Linked DNA regions of Homo sapiens. The protein of the gene in region 3 purifies or fractionates together with the protein of the main gene of each other region. This does not show direct contact. Each region holds a gene or a part of one and is shown on either strand. Other genes may lie near its edges. The genes, in order: DHRS7, NUS1, ITGA8, SUSD5, OSTM1, ITIH2 and DSC3.

What was found.
Region 1: the proteins of ITGA8 (region 3) and DHRS7 purify together in Homo sapiens (affinity purification with mass spectrometry; one large-scale study listed by BioGRID and IntAct). This does not show direct contact.
Region 2: the proteins of ITGA8 (region 3) and NUS1 purify together in Homo sapiens (affinity purification with mass spectrometry; one large-scale study listed by BioGRID and IntAct). This does not show direct contact.
Region 4: the proteins of ITGA8 (region 3) and SUSD5 purify together in Homo sapiens (affinity purification with mass spectrometry; one large-scale study listed by BioGRID and IntAct). This does not show direct contact.
Region 5: the proteins of ITGA8 (region 3) and OSTM1 fractionate together in Homo sapiens (co-fractionation; one large-scale study listed by BioGRID). This does not show direct contact.
Region 6: the proteins of ITGA8 (region 3) and ITIH2 purify together in Homo sapiens (affinity purification with mass spectrometry; one large-scale study listed by BioGRID and IntAct). This does not show direct contact.
Region 7: the proteins of ITGA8 (region 3) and DSC3 purify together in Homo sapiens (affinity purification with mass spectrometry; one large-scale study listed by BioGRID and IntAct). This does not show direct contact.

What each region holds. Positions count from the first base shown.
Region 1 is NC_000014.9:60,143,619-60,146,008, reverse strand, and holds the end of DHRS7 (dehydrogenase/reductase SDR family member 7 isoform 1 precursor), read left to right. Parts: exon of another isoform or gene 1-995; coding exon 996-1,043; 3' UTR 1,044-1,890; downstream 1,891-2,390. UniProt on the Homo sapiens protein: NADPH-dependent oxidoreductase which catalyzes the reduction of a variety of compounds bearing carbonyl groups including steroids, retinoids and xenobiotics.
Region 2 is NC_000006.12:117,678,469-117,681,968, reverse strand, and holds part of NUS1 (dehydrodolichyl diphosphate synthase complex subunit NUS1), read right to left. Parts: intron 1-3,500. UniProt on the Homo sapiens protein: With DHDDS, forms the dehydrodolichyl diphosphate synthase (DDS) complex, an essential component of the dolichol monophosphate (Dol-P) biosynthetic machinery.
Region 3 is NC_000010.11:15,604,923-15,608,422, reverse strand, and holds part of ITGA8 (integrin alpha-8 isoform 1 preproprotein), read left to right. Parts: intron 1-132; coding exon 133-188; intron 189-591; coding exon 592-746; intron 747-2,000; coding exon 2,001-2,138; intron 2,139-2,631; coding exon 2,632-2,699; intron 2,700-3,500. UniProt on the Homo sapiens protein: Integrin alpha-8/beta-1 functions in the genesis of kidney and probably of other organs by regulating the recruitment of mesenchymal cells into epithelial structures.
Region 4 is NC_000003.12:33,177,311-33,180,810, forward strand, and holds part of SUSD5 (sushi domain-containing protein 5 precursor), read right to left. Parts: intron 1-3,500.
Region 5 is NC_000006.12:108,040,909-108,043,741, forward strand, and holds the end of OSTM1 (osteopetrosis-associated transmembrane protein 1 precursor), read right to left. Parts: 3' UTR 501-2,833; downstream 1-500. UniProt on the Homo sapiens protein: Required for osteoclast and melanocyte maturation and function.
Region 6 is NC_000010.11:7,727,316-7,730,815, reverse strand, and holds part of ITIH2 (inter-alpha-trypsin inhibitor heavy chain H2 precursor), read right to left. Parts: intron 3,114-3,500; coding exon 2,988-3,113; intron 865-2,987; coding exon 683-864; intron 1-682. UniProt on the Homo sapiens protein: May act as a carrier of hyaluronan in serum or as a binding protein between hyaluronan and other matrix protein, including those on cell surfaces in tissues to regulate the localization, synthesis and degradation of hyaluronan which are essential to cells undergoing biological processes.
Region 7 is NC_000018.10:31,039,943-31,044,242, forward strand, and holds the start of DSC3 (desmocollin-3 isoform Dsc3a preproprotein), read right to left. Parts: upstream 2,801-4,300; 5' UTR 2,719-2,800; coding exon 2,650-2,718; exon of another isoform or gene 2,500-2,649; intron 1,893-2,499; exon of another isoform or gene 1,591-1,892; intron 1-1,590. UniProt on the Homo sapiens protein: A component of desmosome cell-cell junctions which are required for positive regulation of cellular adhesion. Required for cell-cell adhesion in the epidermis, as a result required for the maintenance of the dermal cohesion and the dermal barrier function.

The DNA.
Region 1 (2,390 bases), on a different chromosome or scaffold from region 3:
TTATTGATAAGCGTCTAAGTTAAGAAAATGCTAGCATAGCTTATTTCAAGCTAATAGTACTTGTTAACTAGAATTTGCTTCTTTAGTCTGTATGTCTGGAACTTTGTTTTTATGAATCTTTATTATTTTTAGGGATCAAGAACAGTGGCTACACTGAATTTTGTATTATCATTATTATTATTTTGTCTTTCTTAGTGCAAAGTTTTGAAAGTGGTAAATGCATATCTTCTGAAAAGAAACATCACATCTTGGGGATTATCAGGTTGCCTTGTTTTATTCCTTAAGCAATATACAAAAAGTTCACAAATAATTTTTTTTTCTTTTTATTTTTTTTGAGACAGAGTTTCCCTCTTGTTGGCCAGGCTGGAGTGCAATGGCGCAGTCTCAGCTCACTGCAACCTCCGCCTCCTGGATTCAAGCAATTCTCTTGCCTCAGCCTCCCGGGTAGCTGGGATTACAGGTGCACACCACCACACCCAGCTAATTTTTGTATTTTTAGTAGAGATGGGGTTTTGCCAGGCTGGTCTCTAACTCCTGACCTCAGGTGATCTGCCCACCTCGGCCTCCCAAAGTGCTGGGATTACAGGCATGAGCCACAGTGCCTGCCTGGCCACAAATAATTTTAAAGAGTTATCTTCCATATATCTCAATTCTACATAATCTGACTCATTGTTTTTATTTATTAGGGCAAGTCAGTGTAGGTATGATATGCTGATCCAGAAAAGTCATTATAGAGAATTTAGCATTGCAGTCCAATGCTATTTATACCTCCTCTAAACCAGAGATGATGCTAAACTCATTAGAAGTACTTTTGTGTACATCTAGAATTTTGGCTATGATTTTTAAATTCTAATTTAAGCAGTTTCTGAACTTTTGTAAAGATTCTTAATAGTGAATCATAATGATACAGCTCCTCAAAACAGAAGGACTTAAATGTTAAAAACTGGAGTAAATAGGAGTAGGTACTGATCCATGTTTCTGTCCCTCTTTTACAGGATGCAGACTCTTCTTATTTTAAAATCTTTAAGACAAAACATGACTGAAAAGAGCACCTGTACTTTTCAAGCCACTGGAGGGAGAAATGGAAAACATGAAAACAGCAATCTTCTTATGCTTCTGAATAATCAAAGACTAATTTGTGATTTTACTTTTTAATAGATATGACTTTGCTTCCAACATGGAATGAAATAAAAAATAAATAATAAAAGATTGCCATGAATCTTGCAAAAAAGGTATTAACTCATACTATATTCTTGGATAAAATAACCTTTTAAAATACTTTAGCACATATGCTTAAAATCTAAGTTAACAGATTTGTCTTAGTCCATTTGTGCTGCTATAACAAAATACCACAGATTTGGTAATTTATAAACAACAGAAATCTGTTTTTCCTGGCTCTTGAGGCTGGGAATTCCAAGACCAATGCACCAGCAGAATTAGTGTCTGGTGAAGGCTGATCTCTGCTTCCAAGATGGCACCTCATTGCTGCATCCTCCACAGTGGAGGAATGTATGTCCTCACATGGTGGAAGGGACAGAAGGGAAAGAGGAGCAAAATGCTTTCAAAAGAGCATTTAATCTCATTCATTACTCAGTCACCTCTTAAAGGCCACATCCTTTAATACTGTTGCTTTGGGGATTAAGTTTCGACATGAATTTTGGAGGGGACAAAAACATCCAAACCATAGCAACATAAATGTATAGAATATTTCACACAAAGCAGAGTGCTGGGTAATGACCAGATATAAAGAAGTATTTGAAATGACCTTACCTCCAAGATGCTTATACTCTTAGAAAAGTTGACAGGTACAGATGGCTGTAATTTGAAGCAGCAGGTAGGATTCATTGCACCTATTATTCATTAAACACCTGTTGTATGTCTTCTACTGTACTGGAGTGCTTAGTATTAGTTAATTAACTCATTCCTCATAACAGCCCACTAAGATAGATGGTATTACCTACCTTGATAGATGAAGAAAGACCAACAAGGTTTTACTTTTCCAAGGTCAAGGTCACAAAGCTAGTAAGGGGTAAAGCCATGATTAGATTCAGCTCAGGAAGATTCCACTGGCAACTCCTTACTTCTACTATTATTAATTTTACTTTAACATTTAACACCTTACAGCAGAAAACATGCACAGGCACTAATAGGAAATCAGCAGGAGTAACAGGTAAAGAAAAACATGGTCCTTATCTACAAGCAGTTCACAATTGAGCTGGAGCCAAAGTAACATACATAAAATAACTGTAGAATAGTTGTTGGGCAAGTTGGAAGCCACCCAAGTGGCTGTCCTTGGAAAAGGGGGAAGATGACATGTGGTAGAGGTACACGATGAGGTATAGCGGGTAGAAGCAATGGAATAAATGCATACATAACAACATGGATATGTA
Region 2 (3,500 bases), on a different chromosome or scaffold from region 3:
CCCAGTTACTCAGGAGGCTGAGGCAGGAGAATAGCTTGAACCCCGGAGGCAGAGGTCGCAGTGAGCCGAGATCGCACCACTGCACTCCAGCCTGGGCGACAGAGCCAGACTCCATGTCAAAAAAGAAAAGAATCAACAGTCTTTTGACAGGTAGCTAGCCCTTTGCCAGAAAAAGGTGAAGAGGACATTTCAGGATGTTAAGATAAATGTGAAACTGTACAAAAAGTCAACTACACAAAGGTAGAGATTAAGAATAGAATGCTCCCTTACATGAGTTTCCACATGAGGGAAGATAAACACTAGGTTGTACTATTCAGTATGTCAAATGTAATCACATTTATATTTAGACTTTCAACATTTCCGGCACCTCTGTATTTCAACATAAGGAGAATAAACTTAAGAAAATCATACTTCTCAATAGCATCTGTGTCACTGTGCCAACTAAGTAAACTAGGGTAAACTATGTTCATTTTCCTCCATTACTTTAAGGCTTCTGGGTATTGTGTTGGGAAGCAGAGAGTGCAACTCAGTTCATTATTCTTATCTACAGGAAATGCGGCCCTTCTTTGAATTCAAGGAACACATATTAACTATTCATTACATGCATAACACCAAGATACACTCTGTAAGAAAAGCAAAAATGAGAAGGATGGATAGCATCTGTGGAGCTTATAATCTAGTAAGAAAGTTTATGCACATATACATACAAATATGACTACACAAAGCAGAGAACAGAAGTACCTTTAGAGATGTTTGAAGTTCTGAGGAGATTCAGAGATATAGTAAGATAGGGAACGGAGTGAATAGTCAAGAAAGGCAAAAATATACAAGGTGATATTTAGGATTGACTCGGAAAAGATGAACAATAGCCTCTTGGTAGGCATACAGCCATTTGCCAGAAAAAGGAGAAGAGGGAGTTCCAGGAAACTGGAACATTAAATACCTAAATACAGACATAGCAAAAGGTATGCAAAGCATTGAGAAACAGGTTGAAAAGATAGGATACACTGGGCAGACTTTTAAAATGTTACTGTGAGAAACCTGTACCCAAAAACCATTTCAAAAGCAACCTAGCTTCGATTTAAATAAACTAAGGAAATAGCACTAGAAAGAGCAGCACACAAAAAAAATTTGTTGTCTTACTGTTGAATTCTCACACAGAAGGCAATGCCTTATTCTGGATCATTCCAATTTACAGCAAATAATCCTAAGGCTTACCCCAAATTATCCTCAATCATGAAAAGGAACATGAAATATAAATAATCTAATGTAAGGCAAGTAGCAGAGTATCCTTTGATCTGTGTTAGGGTTAAACTTCAGTGTGCAGAAGTATCATACAGGTAGCTTGATAAAAACAGAGACGCCCAGGTCCCAGTTCCCTCATTAAGTTTGATTACTAAGTGTGTTGAATCTGCATTTTTTATAAGCATCCCCAATGACTAATTCACAGATGGTCCACAGACAGGTTTTGAAAAATACCAATCAACAGCAAGGTTCCCAGCAAGGCACAATAAAGCCAGGAAATAAGAACAAGTTCCATCACTTAAGATAACAATACATATCCAGATAACTTGGAGCCAAGTGTACCTGCATGTGAGACACAGGCAAACAACACTGCTAAGGCTAGAACAATAAAATCCATTTACCCCAACCCCTGGTTCTTGTACCATCCCAGTTATGGTCATTTCTTAAATTATAATCATATAGACAGAACAGCCAAATCTCGCTAGAATTCTGAACTCAAAAAATTCCTGATCACTGTCCTGAGAGAACAACCTGAATTTTTGAAAGATGAAAGAATTACTTGCAGACTCTATTATAATCAAGAAATATTGCAGGTAGTGAAAAACAAAAAGATCAGTTTGCTGGCAGTCAAATTAAGGTCAATATAATAGATCTTTTAGTCTAAGGATTAAATGTTGTTATCTAGATCCAACCATAATTAGAACGAATTTAAGTACAAATTTGAGAGCAAAGGGGTGTAGGACAGAATAAAATGTAAGGTGGTAAGCTTGTCTTCAAAGTGGCTGCCCGTCCATCTCCCTTCAAATCCTCACCCAACCTTTCTACACAAGCCATTTTCTCATTGAGAGGTGAAGTCCATTTCTCCACTTTCTTGATGCAGAACAGATGTGAGACTTCTCTGACCAAGAGAACATAGCAAAAATAACACTGCATGATTTCCTAGGTTAGGTCCTAAGACATCTTTCAGCTTCAGCCTTTGGCCAAGTCTCTGGAAACATTTGTTCTGGGGGAAGTTAGTTAACTGGTTACCCTGAAGTCAACCTCCAGACCATGTGAAGCCAGATGACCAACCTGCCCCATCTATTTCAGCCATCAAAAACCAGGCACCAGACATAAGGAGAAACCTTTGGGTCCCAGACTCTATCTGAATGAAAGCTATGAGTGACCCAAAGGAAAAACTGCCCAACTGAACTAAGTCAATATATAAATTGTTGTTTTAAAACACTATGCTTTGGGTAGATTTCTACAAAGCAGTAGGTAACCAGAATAGCTGTCCAAGCCTTCATCCTACCTCATTTCCCAACTGTTCATTACATAAATTCACTGCTCCCAACACTCTACTCAATGCTATTACTGAACCTAGTCTAATGAGAATGCTGCCATTAGGGAAATCCCCATTCACACACACAGAGAACACTGTTCACGCCAATCCCAATTCTATCTTTTTGACTAGGTCCAGCTCAGGTGTTGCTCCCTTCCTTACCAGACAAATATGGAGGTAACCCGGGAAATTTTCCATTTTTCGCTCCTTAAAGTATCTGCCATTCACTTAGCATTTCTATATTAGCTTGTGTTAATTTTTAATGGACATCCTTACTTGAGTGGAAACTCTTTAAGAGACACCATTTCTTGTACTTCTTGTATCCCAGTGGCATTTACGAGTATGTCAATAGGATTTTTCATAGTTAAATATCTATCTAGAAATAAGCTTAAATAGACATTTATTTAGAAACACTGAATATGGCCGGGCGCAGTGGCTCACACCTGTAATCCCAGCACTTTGGGAGGCTGAGGCAGGCAGATCACCTGAGGTCAGGAGTTTGAGACCAGCCTGGCCAATATGGCAAAACCCTGTCTCTACTGAAAATACAAAAATTAGCAGGGCGGGGTGGCGCGCATCACCTGTAGTCCCAGCTACTTGGGGAGGCTGAGACAGGAGAACTTGAATCTGGGAGACGGAGGTTGCAGTGAGCCTAGATTACACCACTGCACTCCAGCCTGGGTGACAGAGCGAGACTCCGTCTCAAAAAAAAAAAAAAAAAAAAACCACTGAAAAAGAAACACTAAATAAAGCTTACATGTCTATACTCCCTCTGAGTGATTCTTACATATCCACATGGCCTATATTTTCAAGTCTATATTCAAAGAGCCTCTCCTTGGCCTCCCTATTTAAAACTGTACCCCTTCCTACACCACTGACTTTCAACATTCCTATCTTCCCTTCTCTGCTTTACTTTTCCTCATTGCACTTACAT
Region 3 (3,500 bases):
GTGTGTGTGTGTGTGTGTGTAATTAGAAATATATAGAGAAAATGATATTCGTTATCTGGGATTAGGTAAAGGAAGGCTTCTACTTTAGATTCAAAACTTTATTAACCAATAAATTACTACTATTTTCTATAGCTTTTCTTTAAGAGTATGTGCATCTGTCACAGGCCAGAGCATTGCAAACACAATAGGTAAGCATGTTTTCATTTTTACATTCTTATGGTATACTAAGAAAGTTGAACAGTAACCATTTCTCTGCACAGACCATAAAAAAATGAAAGAACCCTTGAGGAATACCAAGATATCTGTTGCATATATGGAACCTTCTAATAAATATTACTTCAATACTTGGTAATACTATTATTTATAAGAACATATAATTGTAGGGAAAATGACAACTTTTATAAAACCATTATAAAACATTTGTAGCTTGGAGAGTATGTTATACAATTTTTCCAGCTCATTTATCATGCTTGGTCTCAACTATGAAAAAGAACTGTTTCCTGAATAAGCAACTTGAAATAGAAATTCATCTCTCTGATAGAGCACTGTGTTCACTGAATACTTTTTCTCTACTTTACTTCTGTCCTTTAGTCTTGATGGCAGAGGTGCAATTAGATTCCCTGAAACAGAAAGGAGCTATTAAACGGACGCTCTTCCTTGATAACCATCAGGCTCATCGCGTCTTCCCTCTTGTGATAAAAAGGCAGAAATCCCACCAGTGCCAGGATTTCATCGTTTACCTTCGAGTAAGTATTCCAGAAAGACTTCTCTGGCCTCTCTCCTTCATATCCAAATTCCAACCATTTTTCTCCATTTAACCATCATGTTTGTCTGCATAGACCCCCATCTGTCTGTTTTCATTTTCATAGCAGGAAACTTTATTTTAGGGTCAAATACTCTCCTCTTGACCCTGACTTCAACTAACCTGATGATGTGTTGCTATTAATTTCTAAGGCTTCTTTTCATTTTGATCAAAATCTTTATAATGGCATTCAGCTCACATGGTTTTCATTTCTACCCACCTCCTCCCCAAAATACATAAAAGTGCAACACAGTTTATGTGAATTTTTCTCCTATGTGAGTATGTCTTGTTAGATTTTATCAATGCATGTTTCAGAGCCAATTCAGGAAAATATTTAGGCATTCAAAGCTTTTATTAGAAGTAACTTATAATTATCTTATTTAAAGTAATGTCTTTTTACAATGACTTCAAAACCTACCGAAATTTTAAAGTAAAAATATTTATAACACAATTACCTATCTTCACCTTGCCGGTTGTGAGGTTGTGATAACTGTCTCAATTTCTCTTTTCCATTAGGGGACTTAGTTAGCAAGGACCACCCTAGGGAAGATCACAGGTTCACAATCACACTCAAGAATGAAAAGTTGGATACCTGACCCTTGATTGGCAAACAATTGAAGGGTGACATATCCACCGTGTGTTTAGTGCTTGCTGTTTGGTGCTTACCCCTCTCTACTAAAGGAGTTCTGTTTCTTTTTCCAAAAGAACTTCAAATATCCTGAAGGTGTTCTGAAGTTCATGCAGGCAAGGGCTTAAAAAGATGATGAGAGGAAGAGAATCAAGATGTTTTCTTCTTCTGAGCCCCAAGAGAGAACTCATAAATTCTGGCAACCTCACGAAAATAAAAATCCAAATTCATGATGTTTTTTGTGACATTTATGATATACACGTGTAATCTTTTACTTTGCAACTTGACCAGTTCTGCATGAGTTGTTGAAGGTCTGGAGAACCCAAAGATTGGCTCCAGAAGCGTATTTCAATGAAGCCGCAGCTCTAAATGATTTCATCACTGCACATATATTAGGTATGCTGGCTACTATATACCACATAAATCAGCCTCCATCTAAGCCTGCTGCAAAGATAATTGTTTCATCATTCACTTTCATTGAGTAAATTCCAGTGTTGCCTGACTTTTGCAGACTGACATCTTGCAGCTATTTCATGGAGCCTCTGTTGAGTTTGTGATTATTTTTCCTAGGATGAAACTGAATTCCGAGATAAATTATCTCCAATCAACATTAGTTTGAATTACAGTTTGGACGAATCCACCTTTAAAGAAGGCCTGGAAGTGAAACCAATATTGAACTACTACAGAGAAAACATTGTTAGTGAACAGGTAAGTCCTTCACAGTCTTTGACGGCATTTTCTCAAGCAAGCTCTCTGGGGTGTTGTTCTCATGGCTTTAAGACTAAAGCCAGCTCCTTTCATTTTTACTTCTGCATGCAGACATGGAACATTTGGGAGTTTTCCTACCATGTTTCCTGAAACACTGCATGATTGTGTTTTTCGGAAGCCTTTCCTCTTGTGCAATCAAGATTTAATTTGTTCAAAATGTGGCTGTAATGGAAGCAATACAGCCTGTAATCCTCAAGCCATAGGCAGAGTTGCATTCTTTGCAGATATTTCAGAGTGCATTGGAATTGGGCTATTATGTAAAGTAGCCTGTATTGGGAGGTCACTGTGAAATGTAGGCTATTGGCTTGGGTAGAGTCATGCATAGTGAGAGGAAAGCTCTGGTTCCGTTTGTGGCACCATTCAGAATTTTCAAGAAAAAGGATGTGAATCAGATTTTCCTAGATTGTTCCTGACGTGCGTTTATACAACACAGGCTCACATTCTGGTGGACTGTGGAGAAGACAATCTGTGTGTTCCTGACTTGAAGCTGTCGGCTAGACCGTAAGTTTAAATAACTAAATGTGTACTTTCTATCTAATGGAATTACAGGTATTTATGTAAAGGTTCTCTGGAGAAAGTATACACTTCCAATAACTACCAAAAACTATGCTGCGTGAAATTCTTGAGCTTGGCTACACTTTGGGTTAGCCTGTGGTTTGGGTCAGTTATTTGTCATTGGTGTCAAATGACACACCCTAAGATTTTGCCTGGGTCGTTTCATCTTTCAGCAAAAGTGGGGAAAAAAATGTTTTTGTTGAAAGTAAACTCATTGATGGGGTGGCTCGGGTTATGTTTACTTGCCTCAGTCAAGTAGACAAAGGATTCAGACAGGCAGGTTCCATCTACACCTTCAACCAAACTTTTTTTCAGCACCCCATGACTCAAAGCCATCCTTAAAACTGTCAAAACAAAATTAATTTTAACTTATTGAATAAATAAACCTAAATAGCACTCTATGGAGTAAAGCAGAAGGTGTCACAAAATTGAAACGAATCAAAGGGCTTCACAGTTGCCAGTAATGGACGCCCCCATTCCAGCACTGGAAATTGCACTGTATTCTGTTATGGGAAGACATGGACTAGGATGTAAAACATTCTGTGGTCAAGAAACAGATTTGTGTTTCTTTCCCTCCCAGGAACTATCTCACTGCCAGTGTTTGGAATCTGCTTGGTAACTTCTCAGAGGGACTTCCCCCAAATTTCATAATTTATCAACTTCAAATGCAATCGCTTTAAGTAAGGTTAAAAAGTGGAGTAGGCATTTCCAACTATTGGCTTGATTTGCAGTTCTAAGTGAACTGCA
Region 4 (3,500 bases), on a different chromosome or scaffold from region 3:
TGGGAAAAACTGACATCTTCACAATCCATGAACATAGACTATTTCTCCATTTATTTAGTTCTTCTTTGATATATTTCATCAGAGTTTTACAGTATTCTTCATCTAGATCTACAGATCTTGTACGTAATTTGTTAGATTTATACCTAAGAATTTCATTTTTCCTTGGGGTGCTAATATAAATGGTAACATGGTGTTTTTTGGCTTTTTTGTTTTTTTGAGATAGGGTCTCACTCTGTCGCCCAGGCTGGAGTGCAGTGGTGGGATCATGGCTCTCTGCAGCCTTGACCTCTTGGGTTTAAGTGATCCTCCCACCTCGGCCTTCCAAAGTCTTGGGATTATAGGCATGAGCCACTGCACACAACTGGTAATGTGTTTTTAATTTAAAATTTCACTATTTAATTGCTGGTCCACAGGAAAGTGATTAACTTTTGTACGTTAACCTTGTATCCTGCAATCCTGCTATAATTGCTTTTTTTAAAAAAATTATACTTTAAGTTCTGGGATACATGTGCAGAACGTGCGGGTTTGTTACTATAACTGCTTATTAGTTCCAGCTTTTTGTTGTTGTTGATTCTTTCAGATTTTGTACATAGACAATCATGTTATCTGCAGACAAAGACAGTTTCAGTTGTTCCTTCGCAATCTATATTTTCTTTTCTTATTTTATTGTATTAGCTAGGATTTCCAGTACAATGCTGAAAAGCAGTGGTGAAAAGAGACATCTTGCCTTGTTTCTGATCTTAGTAAGAAAGCTTCAAATTTCTACCCTTAATCATGATGTTAGCTGTAGGTTTTTTTGTTTTGTTTTTGTTTTTGTTTTTAGATGTTTTCTATTGAGTTGAAGAAGTTCCCCTCTATTCCTGGTTTGTTAGGAGTTTTTATCATGAATGGGTGTTGGATTTTGTCAAATGCCTTTTCTGCATCTATCAATATAATTATGTGATTTTTCTTCCATAACCTCTTGATGTGATGGACCATATTAATTTTGAAGACTAGCCTTGCACACCTGGGATAAATCCCACTTGGTTTTGGTGTACAAATCTTTGTATACATTGTTGAATTTTGTTTGCTAATATTTTGTTGAAGATAATTGCATCTATGTTCATGAGATACATTGGTCTGTAGTTTTTTTTTTGTTGTTGTTTTGTTTTTTTTTGAGACGGAGTCTTGCTGTCGCCCAGGTTGGAGTGCAGTGGCGTGATTTTGGCTCACTGCAGGCTCCGCCTCCCGGGATCATGCCATTTTCCTGCCTCAGCCTCCCGAGTAGCTGGGACTACAGGTGCCCACCACCACGCCCGGCTAATTTTTTGTATTTTTAGTAGAGACAGGGTTTCACCGTGTTAGCCAGGATGGTCTCAATCTCGTGACCTGCCAGCCTCGGCCTCCCAAAGTGCTGGGATTACAGGCGTGAGCCACCGCGCCTGGCCCGGTCTGTAGTCTTTTTTGTAATGTCTTTGTTTGGTTTTGGTGTTAGGGTAATACTAGCCTCATAGAATGGCTTAGAAAGTATTCCTTCTGCTAACTTCTGGAAAAGATTGTAGAAAATTGGCATAATTTCTGCCACTAGTGAACCCTCTGGGCTTGATGCTTTCTTTGGAAGGTTGTAGAGGATTGGCATAATTTCTGCCTTAAATGTTTGGCAGAATCCACTAGTGAACCCTCTGGGCTTGGTGCTTTCTTTGGAAGGTTGTAGAGAATTGGCATAATGTCTGCCTTAAATGTTTGGCAGAATCCACTAGTGAACGCTCTGGGCTTGTGCTTTCTTTGGAAGGTAATTAGTTATTGATTCAATTTATTTATTTATTTAATAGCTATAGGCCTGTTCAGATTGCCCATTTCTTCTCTACAATGGGACAATTTAATGTAGGTTATCAAATTTGTAGGCATAGAGTTGTTCATAATATTCCTTTATTATCCTTTTAATGTCCATAGGATCTGTAGTGATGTCCCCTCTTTTTTTTAAAAGCATAACCAATTGTTTAATCAGTTTTATGTGACCTATGAGCCTTCAGAAATCAATACCCGAAGAACCAGGGAAAACTGTTGATTTTTATGTTTAGATTCAAAGAAGAATGGACAGCTGTGTAGAAATGTGATTGGACAAAAGGGGTATGATCTAATGGTAATATACTAAAGGGGGAAACCCAGCAAGGTTTGTTTGTTGAGCTTCTTGTTGGCCTCTCTGTGTAGCATTATTTTCTCCTAGATATAGGCAGAACCTCTCTGGAATATAGGTCTTATGACCTATTACCAAACAAGGTAGGTCAAGTTATTTCTTTCAGGCTGGGTGCTACACAGAAAGGTGGGAGAAGGCTATAATAGTATTTCCAAGTTTTACGGCTTGCTTTGGGGTTTCATTTTCAATATTAGTAATTTGCATCTTCTCTCATAGTCTGGCTAGAGGCTTATCCATTTTATTGCTCTTTTCAAAAAACCAACATTTTTTTCCATTGATTTTATGTTTGTAATTTTACTGATTTCTACTCTAATTTTTATTACAGTCATGTGCCACATAACAACATTTTGGTCAAGGAGGAACTGAATATATGATGGTAGTCTCGTAAGATTATAATGGAGCTGAAAAATTTTTATCACCTAGTGATGTAGCCATTGTAAAATCATAGAGCAATGTATTATTTATGTGTTTGTGGTGATGCTGGTGTAAACAAACCTGTTGCACTGCCAACTGTATAAAAGTATAGCACATACAATTATGTACAGTACAAAATACTCAATAATGATACTAAATGACTATGTTACTGGTTTATATATTTACCATACTATACTTTAATCATTATTTTAGAGTGTACTACTACTTATTTTTAAAAAGTTAACTAAAGCAGCCTCAGGCAGGTCCTTCAAGAGATATTCCAGAGAAGGCATTGTTATAATAGGAGATGACAGCTCCATGTGTCTTACTGCCCCTGAAGACTTTCTACTGGGACAAGACGTGAAGGTGTCAAACAGTGATATTGGTGATCCTAACCCTGTGTAAGCCTAGGCTAATGTGCATGTTTGTGTCTTAGTTTTTAACAATAAAGTTTAAAAAGTTAAAAAAAAATTTTTTTGAGACATGGTCTTGCTCTGTCACTCACGTTGGAGTGCAGTGGCATGATCATGGCTCACTGTAATCTTGAACTCCTGGGCTCAAGTGATCCTCTTGCCCCAGTTTCCTGAATAGCTGGGACTATAGGCACATGCATCTGTGCCCAGCTAATTAAAAAAATTTTTTTTGGCCAGGTGCAGTGGCTCATGCCTGTAATCCCAACACTTTGGAAGGCTGAAGCAGATGGATCACTTAAGGTGAGGAGTCAAAGACCAGCCTGGCCAACATGGTGAAACCCTAAAATTACTTTTTATACTAAAAATACAAAAAAAAATTATCCAGGCGTGGTGGTGCATGCCTGTAATCTCAGTTACTCGGGAGGCTGAGGCAGGAGAATAGCTTGAACCCAGGAGGCAGAGGTTGCAATGAGTCGAGGTTGTGCCACTGCTCTCCA
Region 5 (2,833 bases), on a different chromosome or scaffold from region 3:
GCCTCAGCCTCCCAAAGTGTTGGGATTACAGGCAGGAGTCACTGCACCCAGCATCATTCATTTTAAAGCTCTGAAATCTTTTGATTGCATTGGGGTACTGAGATGGATTTTTTTTTTTTTTTTTTGAGACAGGGTCTTGTTCTGTCACTCAGGCTGGAGTACAGTGGCACAATCTTGGCTCACTGCAACCTCTGCCTCCTAGACTCAAGCGATCCTCCCACCTCAGCCTCCTGAGTAGCTGGGACTACAGGTACACACCATGATGCTCAGCTAGTTTTTTAATTTCTTGTAGAGACAAGGTCTCACTATATTGCCCAGGCTGGTGTCAAACTCACGGGCTCAAGTGATCCTCCCGCTTCAGCCTCCCAAAGTGCTGGGATTACAGGTACCAGTCACCACACCCAGCAGATTTTAAAAAATACCTGTTTATCACAAGAAAAACATATTTAAAAAATCATCATTGCAAAGCTCCACACTGTAAGAAGCATGGATCAGTCAAATTATCTTTTAAAAGCCCTCTTTAATTCCAAGGAGATAAAGAAAGTTATTTGTCATTAAACATGTTACATGTATGACTAATATTTATTATAGCTAATATAATAGTTTAGAACAAGGAAATTTAGTAGAGTTGTAACATTTTGGTGCTACATGTATAATTCAGCATAAGCCAAAGCCTTTTTAAAATAACCAATACTATCATTTTATGAAATCTTTACAAGATAAGCACAGTAGTACAATATTTAAGCATCTCAAGTCTCCATTTAAGAGTTGACTATCAAAGAATGACTGTTATAAATAAAGAGCTCTATGATGTTCCACTTATTTAGTCTTAATAAGGTAGGGAAATAAGTGACATACTTTTTAGAAGAATCCATGCAGTGGACAGAAAGTCAGATTAGGTAGTCCCTAGGGATCCATCCAGCTCTGGGAATCTATCATCAGATGGCCTCTAAGGTTTCTTCTAGCTCAGAAAATAGAGGTACTTGGAACATAATTTTTTAAATTTTAAATGGTTATATAGGTTAATAGTATTTTTTGCTTTTCAAAATTCATTGCTGGTGATGTCTATTACTTATTTGATGTCATGTCTTTGGCCAGGAATGCAATCCTAATTAGCATTGTTCCAGGAAAACATTTCATTTTATAGGGAGCATATCCCAGAAACATTAGAAAATACTAGTCCCAATATAAGTAACATTTACCAACTAGACTCTGGGCTACACTTTAAAATATCTGATGTTCAGCCAGGTGTGGTGCTTATGCTTGTAATCCCAGCACTTTGGGAGGCTAAGGCAGGAGGATCTCTTGAACTCAGGAGTTCAAGACCAGCTTGGGCAACATAGTGAGACACTGTCTCTACAAAAAAAAAAAAAAAAAAAATTAATTATAAAAAAAAAAGAAAAAATATATCTGATGTTATTTCTATCTCTCAAGTTCAACAATAAATAATCCAAAGTACATTTTTATTTGCAGCAAAATTTAAGACAGACAGTACTTTCTTTTTTCTTTTTTTTTTTTTTTTTTTGAGACAAGGTCTGGCTCTGTCGCCCAGGTTGGAATGCAGTGGTACAATCTTGGCTCATTGCAACCTCCACCTCCCGGGCTCAAGACATCCTCCCATCTCAGCCTCCCAAGTAGCTAGGACTACAGGCACTTACCACCATACCCAGCTAATTTTTGTATTTTTTGCAGAGACAGTGTTTCACTATGTTGTCCAGGCTGGTCTCGAACTCATAAGCTCCAGCGATCTGCTTCAGCCTCCCAAAGTGCTGCAAATACAGGTATGAGACACTGTGTCCAGCTGATGGTACTCATAAAAGTAGGCATCTAAACTCAATACCTGAAAAACAAATGTGATGTTAAATTACATCTGAAATTTTAAAAATGTATTTAAAAATCCAAATAAAGCTTACAATTTCCTTATTTCCTTTATTTTAATGTGTCAAAAAAACACTTAAAGATATTCTTGTAAATACATATAAGCTGTGTGTCAACATTCAGTACTATGCAAATCATTTTTCAATATGACAAAATGAAAAACTTACACACTTTAGGGTAGCGCTTAATACTTATCTTTGAAATCTATTGCTGATGCTAGGTCTAAAGAGCAATGACTCAACCAGAAAAAATAGTAAAGGCTGCCTTTTCCTTTTTAAAGTGCTTATTAGCTTTATATCCAAAAACAATGGTTTTTACAAATACATAATACTGAAAGGTGCTCAAAAAGTCACCACTTACAGAATTGAACATGTCATTTTCTAACTCTGCACATGTAAACTTGTTTTATCTGCATTAATGAAGATTGCTTCAAATGGCTCTCAATCATATGCTTCAAATCAAGACAGTGCTAAGTTCCAGCAGCATAAACAGTGACAGCAGAACAAACCCCAGCACATTTTCAGTGGATCACAGCAGATCAGAGAAAGTGTAACAGCTTTTGAGTATGTTATACATCCAAGAGCCTTATATTTCACTCCACATAAACAGTAAACATAAAAGAAAAAAGAAACACTTTGTCTCCCTATAGAGCATTTTATAGTATAGGAAGGGATTCAAATTCTCTTTTTAACAAAATTCTTGTTTCTATATAGAGGAGATTTTATATTCTTAATGTTTACAACAAAGCCTATTTCCACCAAAAAAGCAAGAAGAAATTAATAAATGAAATCCTGAACTCTAAAAACCTAAGAAATAAAACTGTGAACAATTCTGAAACGGAGTGTTTTTTCTAAAGGCTAATACAAACATACCAAAATAGAATTTCTGAGCACGAACTATGTGATTTCATTTCAATCGTATCACTTTCATCTGATTGAAATAATTTAGAAACAAT
Region 6 (3,500 bases), 7.9 Mb from region 3:
CTCTTACTTGTTCCCAAATTTAAATACGATGCCTGGTACTGACAAAGAGCAGGGAAAAACATGTTCTTTCCCTACATCATTTTCTCATCTATTTAATCAAAACAAACAAGTAGTTTGTGTCTTTTCAATATATGTATTTTAATTAAAAAAATTATCTGTTGAACAGATGGATCTCACTATGTTGCCCAAGCTGGCCTTAAACCTCTGGGCTCGAGTGATCCTCCCACCTTGGCCTCCAAAGAGCTGGGATTACAGGCATGAGCCACCACACTCAGCCTGTATCTTAATACTTAAGAAAATTTACACTGTGAAAAATTGATACCAAGATGCCAATGCACGTTAAAGAGAAAACGGTTGGCCATGATGATAAGAAGACCAATTGCTGGTGGGGCAGGAGAGCTACAAGGAGCTTTGATGACGCTCAGAAGGCCTTTTTGTTCAGGGGGTAGGACAGCTGTTCCCAACACCCATCTGCCTCATACCTCACTGTTACTGCAGAAATATGAGGGTGGGGGGAAACATGTGAGAAAGGAACTGGGCACTTCCCTGATCCTTGCAACCAAATATGGCTGAGATCATGACCATTTTGAGTTAAGTTCAGTTATGCATCATACCTGCATCAGATATGGGTAGTTAAATGATTTCCAGTGAAGAATAAAAAAAGAACAGAAGAAAATGTTACCTTAAGCTGGGAAGACGTGTCCTGGTTTCCATAAATCCTTTGTGCAATTCCATGGTTTTCATTGGACAGTCTCTTCAAAAAATCATAGTCCACATCAAATCCCATGCCCAAACTGAACAAGGAGATATTGTCTTGGATGTTCTCCTTAACGTTTTTCTGAATTTTTGACAGTTTTAGTTCGCCTAAAGTTGGTGATGTCCGAAAGGAAAGGAATGAAGAAGCAATATCATAAATTTTCTGGAAAATCCAGGGAGGGCAGTTTAGTAAAGTGTGTCCAGATTAAAACTGCATTTCCCTTTTGACCCAGTAACTCAATTTCTAGTTTTTCTTAGAGATGCACTCGTACATGTTGAAATGAAGTGTGGGTTGTGTTGCATAGCAACATTATTTGGGAATTAGCAACATATTGGAAACAACATAAATATGCACCAATGAGGGCGCTTGGTTAGATGATGATACATTTAAACCGTGAGATACTATGCAGCTATTAAAAAGGACATGGAAACTCCTTATGTATGTATACCAGACAATCTCAAGGGCATGTTTAGAGGAGAAAAAAAAAACAAGGTAAATATCAGGGTACCTAGGATGCATTTGCATGCATGCATGTATAAATGTATGTATGTGTATGTATGCATATACACATACATGTGTGCAAACATGTATATATAGTATACAGGCATGCATAAACTATTTGTGGAAAGATACACAAGAAACTGGTAACCAGTGACTGATTCCAGGGACAGGAACTGAATGGTTGAGAAACAGGAGTGAGAAACCATGATTAAACCAAATTATGGTTTAATTTTGTTTTTTTTTTTGAGACAGAGTCTCACTTTGTTGCCCAGGCTGGAGTGCAGTGGCACGATCTCAGCTCACTGCAACCTCCGCCTCCTGGGTTCAAGGGATTCTCCTGTCTCAGCCTCCCGAATAGCTGGGATTACAGGCACACGCCGCCCTGTCAGGCTAATTTTGTATTTTTAGTAGAGATGGGGTTTCACCATGTTGGCCAGGCTGGTCTTGAATTCCTGACCTCAGGTGATCCACCCACCTCAGCCTCCCAAAGTGCTGGGATTACAGGTGTGAGCCACCATGCCTGGCAAGTTTAATATTTTAAACTATATTTCCTTTTCCACCTTATGATTTCATTCAAAACTTGAATTTTGAAAATAATCTGATCTGAGGGAGAAAACATTGGCTCTACAACAAATACATAACACTGGCTCATTCTAGTCTCGTTATTAATAAGATGGTTGCTCTCTGGCTTTCTAAAGCTCTGACTGCCATTGTTTTTGCCTCGTGCATTTTCATTCTGCTTGGCTGTGTCAGGACGTGTTAGACTCGGTCCTAGTCTGTACGACAGCACACTCAGGCAACACAATCTGGCATTCGCTATTACTTACAGTGGCCAGAATAAAGACACAAGTAAAACAAAGATAGCTTGGCACAGTGGCTCACACCTGTAATCTCAACATTTTGGGAGTCCGAGGTGGGAGGACTGCTTGAGCCCAGGATTTTGAGATCAGCCTGAGCAACATAGTGAGACTTCGTCTCTCCAAAAAAAAAAAGAAAGAAAAAAAAGAAATTAGCTGAGTGTGGTGGTGCACACCTGTAGTCCCAGCTACTCAGGAGGCTGAGGTAGGAGGATCACTTGAGCATGGGAGGTTGAGGCTGCAGTGAGCTGTGTGTGCTCCACTGCACTCCCTCCTGGGTGACAGAGCAAGACCCTGTCTTCAAAAATAAATAAAATAAACTAATGTAACAAAAATAAAAATAAATAATAGAAGTAGGGAGATGTTGCTGCCCATTTTGTAGAAAGAAAAATGTTTAACTTCAAGGTTGTGTCAGAGAGCAGTCATTTCTCCAGGTGCAACCGGGAGAAGTGTGGAGAATAATAGGGAATATGCTACTGTGGCCTCCAAAGGTACTGCTGGGAGATCTGGGATCAATACTCATCATTCACCACCCCCATACACCATCTTCACATACCTCAAGTTGAGGAAATAGATGCATTTCCCTAGAATGCATCAGCAATCCTCACAACATACTATTAAAATTCAGACTCAGATTTCTGCATATTGTGGAGGTGGAACTGAGGCATTCAAGAGCGCCCTTGCTGAAAGTGTCTGAGCAGTAGCTTAAGGGGTGAGGGCTGCAGGATCAGAAGACCTCCTTTAGGAAGCATGGGTTTAAAATGTTCTAGAAACTCAGGCAAATGCCATTAGAGTTCCCCTTTTAGGCAAACCACCATTCCAAGAAACAACAGTGAAAGTGTTTGTCGTGAGAAGGTTGAAGTGACACTTGCCCACTGTTGGATCTCCATCAGAAACCAAAATGATCAGCGAGACGGAGTTGGGGTCTAACAGTCCCAAGTTATTGGCTTCATTCAAAATGAAGATTGCCCGTAGGAGTGCTTCGTTGATGTTTGTGCCTGTTGAAGTAGCATAATGAAACGTTGGGTATGCGTTCTCGCCACACGCAGAAAATCCCATTCTGGATTCAGACTCATATGTCGGCTGATCACTTATCCATCACTTATTCCATGCCAAAATCATTTCATTGCTTTCTGAGTGACACAAACTGTGCTCAAGCTGGTGGTCCCCCAGTGCAGTGAAATATTCACTTTGAAATAAACTATCCCCTTAGAGATGAACTAGCCCTTTCAAAGCACAGACTGTTAGCTTGTTAAACACCAGATTAAAGTATCCAAATCAGCCTTGCCAAGATACTCTGAAGATAGTAACATTTTATGCTTTATGCAGGCAATAAAGAAGGCCAGTGTCACTGAACCTTTTTCTGAGAGACATTAAAACGGTTC
Region 7 (4,300 bases), on a different chromosome or scaffold from region 3:
TCACAAATGTAAAAGCCTTTAGAAATTACTATACTCCCTTTTAATTTAAAATGATGAATATATCAAATATTACCAAGAGCAAAAACATCACAAGTTTTTCTGGTAAGGACTCACATTATTCACATTAACCCTAACAAATATAAAAATTTGGATGCCTATTTATCAACATAGGTTGCAGGCAGAGTTCATATACTCCAAAGAGGAAAAGTACAGATTTGAGGGGAGTTATTGCAAACGTTTCAACTATTTTAGTTCCTTTAGAAGAGGAGCCCTTTTAACAAAATGATGGATTAGCCGTGTCCAAGTATGTGCCATTTATAATGTATACTAGATAACATAATCTTAAAGTGGATTTGATAACAGTATTAACACATATTTTTAAAAGAATCTTATTATTTGTAACAGGCAGAAGACAACTGATCTCATGTAAATTAGTTTCCACCATCCCTAACAATTCTGGTTACATTAAGAGGAAAAAACACTTTCTGAGGCAATCAAAAACTTACAATAGTGAGTGAGATGCTCTGATATACTTCTTTTTTTAGTATCTCCCTGTCATTTTTTTCTTTGTGCGTGTGATTATTAGAAACTGTATTTACACTTCAGAGTGTGGTGGGGCACACGGTGGGAAGGAGATACAGGAAAAATGCAGAATGGGAAAATTCCCTCAACCTGTTGGGCTGCTTACTGGGAAGACTAAAATTTAACAAGTCTCAGATTCTTGTTAAAGACTTGCTTTGAAAAGCTGTCTCCTTAGAACAAACAATGTTTTAAAGATAAGTAATGGTTTAAAGATATCCATTAAAGTCTCTATAAAATGAAAAATGTTTCTAAAATGCCGTGTCATTAATATTATATTGAAAAGTTGAGAGTCGTATGAGTCAAAAGGAAGGAAATACATACATGAGATGGTCAAGAGAAGTGTTAATTTACCCATCCGGTCCGAAATTGCAAGTGTTTGTAAACTGACAATTGCAGATGAAATAGTCATTTTCTGTGCACTTTCCGGTATTTAAGTCTCCAGATACAGCATTTAACCTAAACTCAACGGAATTATTTTAAAAAAAAAAAATCTTAAACGAGTATGTGCTAGATCAAAGCTGAAGCTTCCTCCGTTTAGATTTACGCGCACCTTCTTCCTTGCCACAGCTCGACACCCCCACCCATGCCTTGCCGGGAAAGCTCCTGGTCTTCCATGGCCTCTGGGAGCCTCGAGCGAATGCGAGAAATTCTGAGAGCAGCACCCGTAGTTTCGTTCCCCATCCTCAATCCCTTCGCAAAGGAAACACAAAACCCCAAATGCATGCTTGTAAACTGAAAAGCTGAAAATGCTTTTAAATATATTACAAAAGAACACATTCTCTAAGCCGTTTCCATTTGTAGTCACTTCATAAGCTCAGATACTTTGTTGGAACAGTTCCCGGGCAAATGGATGCGCTTATTTGTCCAATTCCTTCTCCATAAACATATCGTAGATCATAACTACCAATCCCATATTCATACCTCGCTGACCTTAAGGGAGGACAACCCTTGGACCCACTCCCACTTGCCAGGGTGGAGGGCCAGGAAGCAGTAAGAATCCGCGAGACCAGACTCGGCTCACTGCCGACGCGGGTATAGACCTCGCTCCCATCGGACCCCATGCGCATCCATGGATGCGGGTAAGTCGCGGGTCCGCGGCTCCTTTCTGGGCGTGCGGAATGAAACTCTGTTGAAGCCTGAAGCTTCGCGTGTAACCGCGCCGCCAGAGTTCCGAACACTTCAAGTCTCCCGTGTTCTCAGAGCATCGTCTCTAACTTCCTCTCCTAGAGGATTTCGTCCTGGGCGGCAGGTTTCCGTAGACTCGAAACCCCAGGCTGTGCTCCGGCCGCGCAGTCCTCCCCGGAGCCGGAGTAAGTACGACGCAACCCCACCGCATCCATCATCCCCCACCACTGTCACCCTCTACCCGCCTCCACACCTCGGCAGCATCCCCAAAACACAACACGACCCCAACCCCCATTCTGGCCCGGTCTTCCCACACTTTCGCGCCCCCGGCACATCCCGCCCCCAGCTGGGTGGCTGGCGGGGGTGGACCGCTTGGGTGAGCTTCTGAATACCCTTTAGGGGAGATACCGAGAAACCCACTTCTCAGGGGCAGCCCCACCAAGGGACCCAGGGACACAGCCCCGGCTCCACTCACTAACGAACCAATCCGGGTCAACTGCGACCCAGAGCTGGGGAGGGGGCAGCCCCTAAATCCCTTTTCAAGTCTGTGCTTTGAGCTCTCAGGGATCCTCTCCACCCAAAGGCGCCCTCCAACCACCATCACCACCAGCTCCACCACCTGGGGAGAAGCGTGAATCCCAACCCCCTGCCCAACCCGCGACGGCGCCCGCCAGAGCGCAGCGAAGCCTGAGCGCGACTCAGAATTCCAACAATCGAACACCTTGTCTCAAAACAAAAAGCTCAGTCCAGAGTCGACCCGCAAACACACGTTTTCTCTCCTCACTCCTGCAGGCCCGAACTTGGGGCTGCTACCAGACCCGCAGCATTGATCTGAGCCGCGGTTGTCACGTTTCGGCCCGCTTTGTCCCCAGCTCCGTGCAGCGTCCAGGGCGGATCCACCCCCGTCCCCACCCCAGCCCTATCCGGCGAGATCTGGCTTACCACGAGGGTCAGCAGCAGATGCAGGCAGACGGCTCCGCGCACGGAGCGCCGGGGCCCAGCGGCGGCCATCGGGATGCCGGGCAGGGCCAGGAGAACGCGGGCGCCGGGAGGGTGCCGAGAGCGAGACCTGCCGAGGTGCAGGGCGCGGGAGGTGCTTTTCTCGCCGCTGCTTGTTTTTAAGTGTATTTGGCCTCTCTCAGGCTTGCCTGCCCGGGAGCAACTTCACTTCTGAAACCGGATTGGACCCAGAGGACGCGGAGAGGCCACTCCTTGTTATTTCTCAAGTTTTATCATCGCCGGCGCGGCTGAGGAGCTGCCCGAGCCTGCCCCTCTGCTCCCCAGCAGCCACCCGGGCGTTCGCGCTCGGGAAAGCGGTCTCTGGCGCACCCTCTGCCAGTTCTCCCACGCCCCTCGGCTGCCCCGCGGCGCTGCCGCCCCGCCCGGCCCGCAGAGAGGCCCTGGCAGCCCAGATCGTCCCAGGGCGGCCCCATCGCCGGCGCTGCGCGGTGCATCTCAATGCAGAACCCCAATCCGCCCGCAGGGATCCCTGCCTCGACACGGGCTCTGCTGGATGCCAGGAACACCCTTGTCATTGGATCAGCGGATCTCCCCTTCGACGTCTGAACAAATTCTGCCAATGTTTTCAGATTAAAGCAAAATACATGTACTGTATTCTCTCCGGATTTGACTAACATGACAAAATACACGACAGAAGGAATTTATCCCAGATGGCATGATAAACAGTTTTTGGCATGTCAGAAATTAAAACCAAATTTAAGAAATTCTAATCTAACCATTTTTACGCACCCAAAATATGAGTGATTACACTCAGCGCTCTATTAACTGTCAGTTTGGGGGACTCATATGAACCTTCTAAAAACGACTTTGTTCTTAGATGTGAATTATTGGTTTACTACTTACTGGTACCAAAATGAAATTTTTCAGGTGGTCAAAGGAATATCTACCACACAAAACCTTCTAAAACGAGGCTTACAGATTCTACATCATGCAACGACTATTTATCAGGGCCCGAAGTCGGCCAAGCTTTGTGTGAGGGCATGGAAGAAAGGAAATGCAGAAAATCTAGTTCCTGTCGGAAATAATTCAAAGTCAGAAAGGGACGAAAGACAATCATTCCTAGCCCAGTAGGCTACACTTTTTAATAGAGATGTCGTTTGTAACACCAGGGGGACATCCTCTTATTTCTCCCTAAACTGAATTTTAAGTTCCCCGAGTTCCCATCTACTGGATTCAGGAGGAAATCCCTCTCAGACATGAGATGCTACTCCTCGAAGTCCATTCAAAAGTTGCAAGGTCGGGAATTTCAGACAGCCAATTAATCATGAAAGGGTGTTATGACCTTCATTCATCTCACTCTGGCTCAAGTCTAATAGACTCCTCGTCGTCTAAGCCATGTATTCCCTGAAGTCTGGGGCTTCCCTGAAACTCATGAGGCTCAGCTTTAAGGGCTCAGACACTCTAAGTTGAGCTTCCCAGTGTGAATCTCCCAGGCACCCGTCAGTGGAGGTCTCTGTATGTAAGAGCTCTTCCAGTCTCAGAGAAAGTTCTCCAAACTTCTCTCCACTCCAGGGTTTTCACCTCCCATCCTCCACGTGCCTCCAGCATGACCTCAGAGAAAGCTTCTCAAAGT